Homo sapiens: one gene and its partner. The protein of the gene in region 1 purifies or fractionates together with the protein of each later gene. This does not show direct contact. Each region holds a gene or a part of one and is shown in the gene's direction. Other genes may lie near its edges. The genes, in order: FARSB and IARS1.

Region 1 (3,000 bases):
GAGGCTCTGCAGCCAGATCATCTTACACTTGTCCCTGGTGAAGCATTTGAACTGGAGCCAGGGCAGTCTGTGAGTACTGCCAAAAGCCTTTATTACAGAAGATGCACACCTTCTTAGTAAAAACTGGGAGCTCTAGTATTAAAGTGAAAATTAAATGGAATTGATTTTTGTTCTAGCTTAGAAAAAACTTAAATTCTACCACTACAGCCTCACAGTCCTGCAGTGCTCTTCTAGTTTTGTTTGTTTTTTGTTTTTTTAGACGGAGTCTCGCTCTGTCACCCAGGCTGGAGTGCAATGGCACAATCTTGGCTCACTGCAACCTCCACCTCCTGGGTTCAAGCAATTCTCCTGCCTCAGCTTCCCGAGTAGCTGGGACTACAGGTGTGTGCCACCATGCCTGGATAATTTTTGTATTTTTAGTAGAGACGGGGTTTCACCACGTTAGCTAGGCTGGTCTCGAACTTCTGACCTCAGGCGATCTGTCCACCTCTGCCTCCCAAAGTGCTGGGATTACAGGCGCCCAGCCTGCTCTTCTGTTTTTAAATTATTTTTGAATTGATCTTTTTTCACATTTTAATTTTTTTGGTTTAATAACGGTATGAGAGTAGGAATTCTCCCTGATGTGTAGGGTGAAAACAGTTGAGTTTCAGAGAGATCAATAACTTACTCAGAAGTCACATAGCCAATAAATGAGTTTGAGACACTATAAAAGAGTGACTTGGAGTCCACAGACCACTCACTGATTTGCATTATTTACTTATTTATGCGAAAGTAAATAATGGGACTTTCTACACTTTTTAAAAATATAAAAATAATGGGAGACAAAAAGTTAAAAATTGTTAAGTCCAATACTTTAAAAAAACTCTGCAAACTGTGGCCTTACTGAGTTAATCTACCTTTCTTCCTCCTGATTCCCTGAAGTAACTAACTGCTGTTAACAATTTAGCCTGTATTGTTCCTTAGTTTGGACATTTTCCTTGATTTGTACAGTCAGCCACACACACCTGCTCACATTTTTGGGGGTCATGCTCTACTTACTGGTTTGCAACAAGTTTTGTTTTTTATTTTACATATATCTCATGACATTTCACTTAATATGCCCCATTTTTTCAGGTCAGTGCCTATAGACCTATCTCATTCTTTTAAATGAGGTAATATTCTATTGTACAGATGTCCGTAATTGTTCAATTATTCCCTTGTTGGTGGACATTCAGTTGTTTCCAACTGTTTGCAATTATAAACACTGCTCCAATGAACCCCCTATCCTGCTAAATAGCACTGGCTTAGGACCCCAAGGAAAACCAGTCCTAATGGGTGCAAGACTGTATAAATATCCACATTTGACAGACACATTCAGAGATGCATAGAGTTCATTAGATATTTCTTTGATGTGACGTTTGTACTTGAACTATATATTATTCCAGTACCTTACATCTTAGATGTAGAAGTCGCTAGGTCAAAGGATGTGTTTTGAATTTAAAACATGTTGAATGACTGTTCTCACATTTTAAACAGGAGTAATCTACTACAAACCAGCCAGCCTAACCACTGCCCCTGCTCTCAGCAATGATGGGCTCATCAGCTTGGTAAGAGAGAACATTACTCACAATCTTGCTTCTCAATCTTAATCTATTTGTGCTTGGTGTTTTATATAACATCACTAACCCTAATACTTGAGTATTTACTTTGGCCCTTCTGTCCATTTTATCCAAAAGCAAACAGATAGCCTTCAAGGGACACCATTGCCTTAAGCAGAATATGCCTCCTAAGCATTGAAAGCCTTTGACCCATCTGATATCCAAGTTCTGGCTTATTATGTTATTAGGGCCTTGAATAACTTTATGTATATTATTATGGACTGAATGTATCCCCACAAATTCATGTTGACCCTCTGACCTCCAGTGTGATGGTCTTTGGAGATGAGGCCTTTGGCAGGTGATTAGAGCTAGATGAGGTCATGAGAGGGAGGCCCTCATGAAAGGCTCAGTGGCCTGATAAGAAGAAACACCAGAGAGCTTGCTCTGTTTCTCTGCCTACCTGGCGCACACATACAGAAGAGGTGATATGACCACACAGCAACATGGTGGCCACCAGCAAGCTAGGAGAGGGATCAGAATGAAACCTATTTTGCTGGCACCTTGATCTTGAAATTCTAGCCTCCAGAACTGTGAGAAATAAAATTCTTTTATTGAAGCCACCCAGCCTATAGTCTTTTGTTGTGACAGTCCCAGCAAACTAAAACACATTATTGAAAACTTGCATTCAAAAAGTAGAGAGTGGCATGCATGATAAAATTCAAGGCAGCAGTACACCTCTGGGACAGTCTGTAGCAGTTCCCTAATCTACCTGTATCCATGAGCGCAGATAGGAGTGAAGCCTCCTAGGCTTCCAGTCTGCAGCATCTCTGTCACATGGAAACCTGATGGGTGCCACTGTGAGGGGGGCCAATTATGCACAGTGCACACTAAACACAGATCATTTTAGCCTTCCTAATTAGCCACTAATAAAAAGACACTGAAGTATCCTGAAGATCAAAGAGAGATTTCCACCATGCCTCAATACAAACCCCAGTCCGGGCCTCCGCTTGACAGGTGCTGTGCCTAGTGTTTTGCCCTGACCAGAGTCCATGTAGGGAACATGACCTGCTTAGATAAAAGAAGAGCTGTCAAATGACTGTGCTTGACAAATGGGCCAGGCAGCAAGAAGGGCAACGCAGAAGCAAAGCGGTTTGAGTCTCCGCGATGTCTACTTCATGTTCAGGTATTCTCTGCTTTGGCTTTCTAGTAGGCAGAAAGGATGAGTGAATATTGTAGCTAGACTGTGGGTTGAGTAAGTATCTCCAGCAAAGGGTCTAATTGAATTATGTCTGACCAAACCCTGTAGGTTTTTTTTTCTTCTGAAGTGACTAATGGAGTGTGCTAAGAATATACTCAAGGTTCACACTCAAGCTTTTCATTCTTCGTCTGTAAGGTTTGGCCTTCCTTGTTTCTATTGAAGAAA
Region 2 (7,306 bases), on another chromosome or scaffold:
AACCAAAAGTTAGATTTTAAATTCTGACATTAGTACCTGTGGCTATGCATAAAATAGAAATTTTTTTTTTTTTTTTTTTTTTTTTTGTGACAGGGTCTCGCTCTGTCACCCAGGCTGGAGTGCAGTGATGTGATCTTGGCTCACTACAGCCTCCATCTCCTGGGCTCGGGCAATCCTCCCACCTCAGCCTCCCAAGTGGCGGAGATTAGGCATAGTAGTACAGGCTTTTGTAGAGATGGGGTTTTGCCATGTTGCCCGGGCTGGTCTCTAACTCCTGAGCTCAAGTGATCCTCCCACCTCGATCTCCCGAAGTGCTAAGATTACAAGTTTGCGCCACCACACCCAGCTGAAAAATTTTGAAATTAACTACTTCACTTAAAATGAGATTAATTAATGTAGCTAAATATAATGGCAAAACTAAACATTCCGTATTATTTGCTTCAAGCTGTTCTCATTTTCCCATCCGCTACTGTGCCATCACCATCCCTGCCGCATCAGTAATCCTCAGTAGCATGACTGAAGCATGAAGTGTTCTGTTTAACTGATCTTCTGCTTAGTTAATAGTTAACCTTGTGGTACTCTGCAATTGCTTGCACAAAGGTTACCTCTGAGGGATGAGGTTTATATTTCTGGGTCTGGAGTCCTTTTTCTGTTATGCTCAACTGTCTTGATAGATCTTCATAACAAGCATTTTCTTCTTACCATACAAATCACTGGTTTTTAAGCATATTTATAGAATGGTACAACTATCACCATAGTTTTAGAACATTTTCCTCGTCCCAGAAAGAAAGCCAGTATTCATTAACATTCACAAACCATTTTCCCCTCAATATCTGACCATTTCCTGGCATCCACGAACCTATTTGCTATCTCTGGATTTGCCTTCTCTGGACATTTCATATAAGTGGAATCATACAATTTGTAATCTTTATGTCTGGCGTGTTTCACCTAGCATAATGTTTCACATTAATTTATGTTGTAGCACATATGAGTGCTTCAGTCCTTCATATTGCCAAATACTCTATTGCATGTGTATGCTGCATTTTGTTTATCCATTCACAGTTGATGGACACTTGAAGTGTTCTTGCTTTCTGGCAGTTAGGAATAATGCTGCTGTGGACCTACATTTTTGTGTGAACATATGTTTTCATTTCTCATTTTTGTTTCCTCTTGTGCATTAACTGTAGGAACTCAATGTTCGAAAAGTTACACTGTCTACAGATAAAAACAAGTATGGCATTCGGCTAAGGGCAGAACCAGATCACATGGTCCTGGGGAAGCGTCTGAAGGGAGCCTTTAAGGCAGTGATGACGTCCATCAAGCAGTTGAGCAGTGAGGAGCTGGAGCAGTTCCAGAAGACTGGTAGGTGTCTACACAGACAAGGGCACCATTTATGTCCTGAGTCTGAGGGATACTTTTTAGGCTACTGTTTGACTTTTAATATCACATCCTTTCCTTTCCTGTCCTGTCGTGTCCCGTCGTGTCCTGTCCTTTCCTTTCCTTTCCTTACTCTCTTCTCTTTTCTCTCTTCTCTCTTCTCTTTTCTTGACAGAATCTCGCTCTGTCATCCATCCTGGAGCACAGTGGCGCGATCTTGGCTCACTGCAACCTCTGCCTCCCAGGTTCAAGTGATTCTCCTGCCTCAGCCTCCCAAGTAGCTGGGATTACAGGCACGTAGTACCATGCCTGGCTAATTTTTGTATTTTTGGTAGAAACAGGGTTTCACCATGTTGGCCAGGCTGGTCTCTAACTCCTGACCTCAGGTGATCCACCCGCCTTCGGTCCCCCAAATTGCTGGGATTACAGGTGTGTGCCACTGCACCGGTCCATCCTTTTCTTAAGTAAAACTTTTTTTCCTGTTGATAAAAATGTTTATTATAAATAATTCTTACAGTTTAGAAAGAAAATAGCTGGGCACAGAGGCTCACATCTGTAATCCCAGCGGCTCACATCTGTAATCCCAGCATTTTGGGAGGCCCAGTTGGATAGATCACTTGAGATCACTACAGGCACATACTACCACACTTAGCCAGATGTGGTGGTATGTGCCTGCCATCCCAGTTACTCTGGAGGCTGAGGTGGGAGGATCCCTGGAGCCTAGGGTGATTTTGTCCTTACTTTCATGGTGCTTGCTGACATTGAAGATTTGGGAAAATAATTATGGTTTTGATAAGTGTTATAAAGGGAAGGTGTAGGGTAACATAAAAACATGTGGGGGTACCTAACCAAATGATGGGATTAGGAAAGGGAAATCAGCCCCATCTTGCTACCCCTATACAGAGCATTTCAGGGTGCCCAGAAATTTGCAGCTCTGCCATGATTAGAATCATACATGGTCTGAGTGTGGCTGTCTGACATCCTGTAACTATCCTGGGGCACAAGCTGTTTATTGTTACGGCTTCCTCTGAAGTTGAAAATCATAAGCTAGGAGATGTCTTGAGAAGAGAGATTTGAGGATTCATAAATCAGATGGGGGAACTGTCCCTAAGATTCTCCAAATATTTAGATAGAATTAATAAAACATAAGACATCAGCAGCTAAACCTCAAGTTATTACTAATTACTAATCAACTCAAAATATTAAAATAACAAAGTGTTACGAGCCTTCAAGCCACAAATCTAAATTGTTCGCCAGATAGCCAAAGCATCAAAAATTCCTGAGATGGCTGGGGGTGGTGACTCATGCCTGTAATCCCAGCACTTTGGGAGGCCGAGGCGGGCAGATCACGAAATCAGGAGATTGAGACTGTCCTGGCTAACACGGTGAAACCCCGTCTCTGCTAAAAACACACACACACACACAAAATTAGCCAGGTGTGGTGGCAGGCGCCTGTAGTTCCAGCTACTCAGGAGACTGAGGCCGGGGAATGGCGTGAACCCAGGAGGCAGAGCTTGCAGTGAGCCGAGATCCTGCCACTGCACTGCAGCCTGGGTGACAAAGCAAGACTCTGTCTCAAAAAAAAAAAAAAAATTCCTGGGCTAAACCTTATTTGAAATTGAAAGCCTAGTTTCTGAGCGTACTGTTCTGCACTGATGGAAAACAAGATCATCTTCAGAACACAGAGACAAAGTAAACATAAAAATGACACCCGGGTGCTCAGAGCCCAAGAAGGTCATCATCAGTGACAACAGTGGGCCTCCCTATCAGCGGGGGTGTTAACATCAGCAGCTGTTCACATTTCTGCCTCCCCTGAACAGGCATGATGCTCAGTACTACACACTGCCCGTCTCATTTTAGCCTCACCACACCTTGCTCAGCAGGTAGCAGAACACCATGTCATACAACCAGCAAATAGTGGACCTAAGTTCACTTTCTCTTTAAAGACTGTATTTTCTTCATGACATCCTGCTGCTCTGTGTTTATGGTGAGCATTTGTTGCCTCTTGGTGCCTTCCCTTAGCTTTGTCATGTCTTTGGACCTGAGAGTTTATATAAAACAGTAGATACTGGTGATGACTTAACTGTCTTCAAGGTAGCATAGTGTAATCTAAAGAAAGTTTGTCATGTCTTGGCTACAACCATGACATGAGTCAGAGGGAAATGATCTCTTGAAGCCTCTGTGGCTTTGTTATTGTGAAATTTTAATCAAGAAGGGGCATAATACACGGGTAGTGGGGCAGCTTGAAGAGGAGGGGAAGCTGATTAACAGTGTAGCTGCTTCTCCATAGGGACCATTGTTGTGGAAGGCCATGAATTGCACGATGAAGACATCCGCCTCATGTACACCTTTGATCAGGCCACAGGTGGGACTGCGCAATTTGAAGCACACTCAGATGCTCAGGTATTTTTCTGTTTCCTAGAACATTTCTTTACCAAGAGATGAGAGCATAAGAGGAGAAAGTATTTGCCTGTGCCTTTCCTGATAATGTTGACAGCTTGTCTCAGGGTAAAATAAACCAGTTACTTGGTTTAGATTGGCTTTATTAAACTAATATATTATTATGCCCTTAACATATGCATTTGTTTAGTGAATACATAAGTAAGCATTTTGTGATTTCTACATGTCAGTCATTGTCCCAAGTGTGGGGTTGCACAAAAATGAACCCTTCAAGGAATGAGTCAGTCAAGGACACCTGAAATTAAGCCAGTTCTTAGTATTCTACCTGATAAGTTATCTGGTAGAAATAAGTACACAGAGGGCTCCTATCCAAAAATAGGTGTAGGGTGAAAAGTGGTCAGGGAACACTCTTTTCAAGAGAATATACAAACTGTTTTAGATTCCAGGATCAATATTTTTTGCCATATTGGAGAAGAGACTATCTCTTTGCAGTCCTGACCAGACATCCCCAGTCAGCATAGTTGTAAGATCTCGCATGTGGGTTTGGGGATATTGCAGGGGTCCCTCTGTGCTTAGCATACCATGTGCAGGGGAAGGTAGAGCAGCACCTCCATGAAAGGAAGGTCGACCTCCTCAGTCCTTTACCCAGGCGCTTAAGTTAGATGTGTACAGAACTCTACGTGGGAAGACAGTGGCAAGGAGTCGGAGGTATCGTAGCTGGGAAAGAAGGCAGGGAGGAGGTTTCTAAACACTGACAGTGGGCAGTTCTTCCTCATTACAGCAGATGTTAGGGGCCTGAAAAGTTGTCCACCTTACAAAAGTGTCATGTGATGCTTCTGAGTTTCTTGACATGGCTTACATGTTGTAGTGGCCCTGCACTGACTGGAATTTTGAGTTTATCATGCATTTCACTACCTCTGATGCCTTTATGAAGTGAGTCATTTCTTAACTTCTCTGTTTACTCAAAGGTAAATGAGATGATGCCTAATGTACAAGTCTTTTGTAGAGTATATTTTACTCTGCAACATGCTGTGTAACAGAAGCGATAGTGTCATTATTGCTACATCATAATCAGCAACCTTCAGAATAGATGAGATAGAAACATTAACCTTAGCAAAAATATGGCAGTTTAAGTCACAGAAAGTTTTGTGGTCCATTGTAGAATTTGTCTTGAGTCGTTCTGACAAACCTGAAGATCACAGGGGTCATGGTATAGGAAAGTCACTTGGAGTTGACTGCGCTGAGGCCGTTGATCCACTTGTTGTGGCCTGAAAAGCTGTGCTGCTCCAAGGGCTTCATGATTATTGATCTTACTTATTAGAAGAGTTGATATTACTTCTTAGATGGCCAAAAAGCAGAGTCATGTGAGGGACTCTGATAAGAGGTGGTCCCAGGGCATCTCCTGTGAGCAGCACCCTACAAAAAAACAAGAAACAAAAACCTGCACACCTTTCTCCAGAGACAGAGGACTAGCTGATTATGAAGAAGTACCTGAATGATAAACTAGATTAATTTTATTGCTTTTGCTCATTTGTGTGAAAAAATAGTGCTGCATTATAGACTCTCCAGATTTAAATAACATTTTGCTGAGTTGGGAAGAAGTGTTTCTCCTTATTTGATTGTCATGGTGTGCACTGTTCATTCCCACAGGCTTTGGTCCTCTTAGATGTCACTCCTGACCAGTCAATGGTAGATGAAGGAATGGCTCGGGAAGTCATCAATCGCATACAGAAACTTCGCAAAAAGGTTAGTTTGTCAGTTAAGAATAAGCTACTGTTTTGGCTTTTTGTTTGTTTTGGTTGTTTGGAGAAGATAGGAGAGGCAGGTAATATAAACCATAGTGATCAATGCATAACAATCACTAATCCATAGTCCATTTGGAATGTATTCTGCAGAAAAGTCACTCCTCTTCCTCTCCCCACGTGTTCACTCCCAAGTCGTAGCTTTCAGCCAGCCTGTGCCTTTTCCCATCCTTTTTTTTAGCTCCGTTGGGCTTCTACAGAATATCCCCTGTGACTGGAGCAGAAGGTAATCAGAGCTGATAGTGTCTTTGCAGAAGGGCAGAGGTGCAGTCAGCATAGACAGGCTTCTAGCTTAGGGGAGATTCCCGGATTTGGACAGAGTTGGGTAGTTTTTCCTTATTAGAGAGCTGAGGAATATGCAGGGAGCTCATCCTGGAGCGCAGAGGGGCTGCAAAGCCCCTGCTAGTGAGAGAATCAGGAATTTCTTGCCCTGTAGAGGGCAGTGACAGCTAACATACATCTTTCTTCCCAGACGGTTCAAGGTCTGAGGAGGCTGTTCCAGCAGATGAGTGGGTGCTTGTGACCTCTGAATCAGTTCAGAGCTTTGTAAGTGGGTTCTAAGTAATTTCTTGGTTTCAACATTCATGAGGTACTGATTGTTCTAGGAAAAGAAACATGCCCTATCCCCCAAAGAGTGGTGAAAAAGACACAAAGTTAATCATGTACTGAGTGCAGTTAGTCTTACGGATCACCCAGCAGGGAGGGAAGGGTGACTGCCCTTCTGTGATGATTCAGCATGGGATCTGTAGCCCTTGTTCAACAGTACCTTCCTTCAGTTCTGATTAATAGAATGTACTTCCCTTTTAAATTTTTCTGTGTGTGTTTTCAGTGCAATCTGGTTCCAACTGATGAAATCACAGTGTACTATAAAGCAAAGTCTGAAGGAACATATCTGAATAGTGTTATTGAAAGCCACACAGAGTTCATATTTACCACCATAAAGGCTCCCTTGAAACCATATCCAGTTTCTCCATCGGATAAAGTCCTTATTCAAGAAAAAACACAGGTGAGTCCTGAGTTCCACTGAACTACTACTAAAGGGTTTCAGATTAGGTTTGACTTTGTGTACTCACGTGTTGATATTCTGTCCCACAGTAGAGATCGGCACAGCACTCTGTCTTGAAGTATTGCTCTGGACAGTAGTGGGTAGAGTCAGAGAGTGGAAGCTCAGAAAAGATGGAGCAGGGAGGGAAGATGGAACTGTTTTCACAACAGTTCTCTTGAGGAAGGTAGCCAGGAGGGTACATGAGCTTTGCCCGGAAATAAAATGGCCTGTTTTTTCTAAAACTAGAAAAGGCAGTGTGTGGATTCTGGTAATTATCATTAAAAGTAAATAGCAATTGGCTTGAAAAACATTTAACTCTTCTGGTAGTGGGTTCTCCATAAAAGTACAGTACAAAAAAAGAAAGATTACAATAGCATTTCTGTTGTTACATCTAGGAATTTTAGATATACTTATGAAAGTATGATATTAAGGTAGGGAAGATATTGGCTTATAACTTAGAAGTAGATCATTTAGACTGGGCACAGTGGCTCACACCTGTAATCCCAGCACTTTGGGAGGCCAAGGCGAGCAGATCGCTTGAGGTCAAGAGTGCGAGACCAGCCTGGGCTGGTGAAACCCCATCTCTACTAAAAATACGAAAATTAGCTGGGCATGGTGGTACACGCCTGTAATCCCAGCTACTCGGGAGGCTGAGGCAGAAGAATCGCTTGAACACAGGAGG

The links.
Region 2: the proteins of FARSB (region 1) and IARS1 fractionate together in Homo sapiens (co-fractionation; 2 studies listed by BioGRID). This does not show direct contact.

What each region holds. Positions count from the first base shown.
Region 1 is NC_000002.12:222,566,096-222,569,095, reverse strand, and holds the end of FARSB (phenylalanine--tRNA ligase beta subunit), read left to right. Parts: 3' UTR 1-2,197; downstream 2,198-3,000.
Region 2 is NC_000009.12:92,241,433-92,248,738, reverse strand, and holds part of IARS1 (isoleucine--tRNA ligase, cytoplasmic), read left to right. Parts: intron 1-1,187; coding exon 1,188-1,362; intron 1,363-3,667; coding exon 3,668-3,780; intron 3,781-5,427; coding exon 5,428-5,523; intron 5,524-6,408; coding exon 6,409-6,585; intron 6,586-7,306. UniProt on the Homo sapiens protein: Catalyzes the specific attachment of an amino acid to its cognate tRNA in a 2 step reaction: the amino acid (AA) is first activated by ATP to form AA-AMP and then transferred to the acceptor end of the tRNA.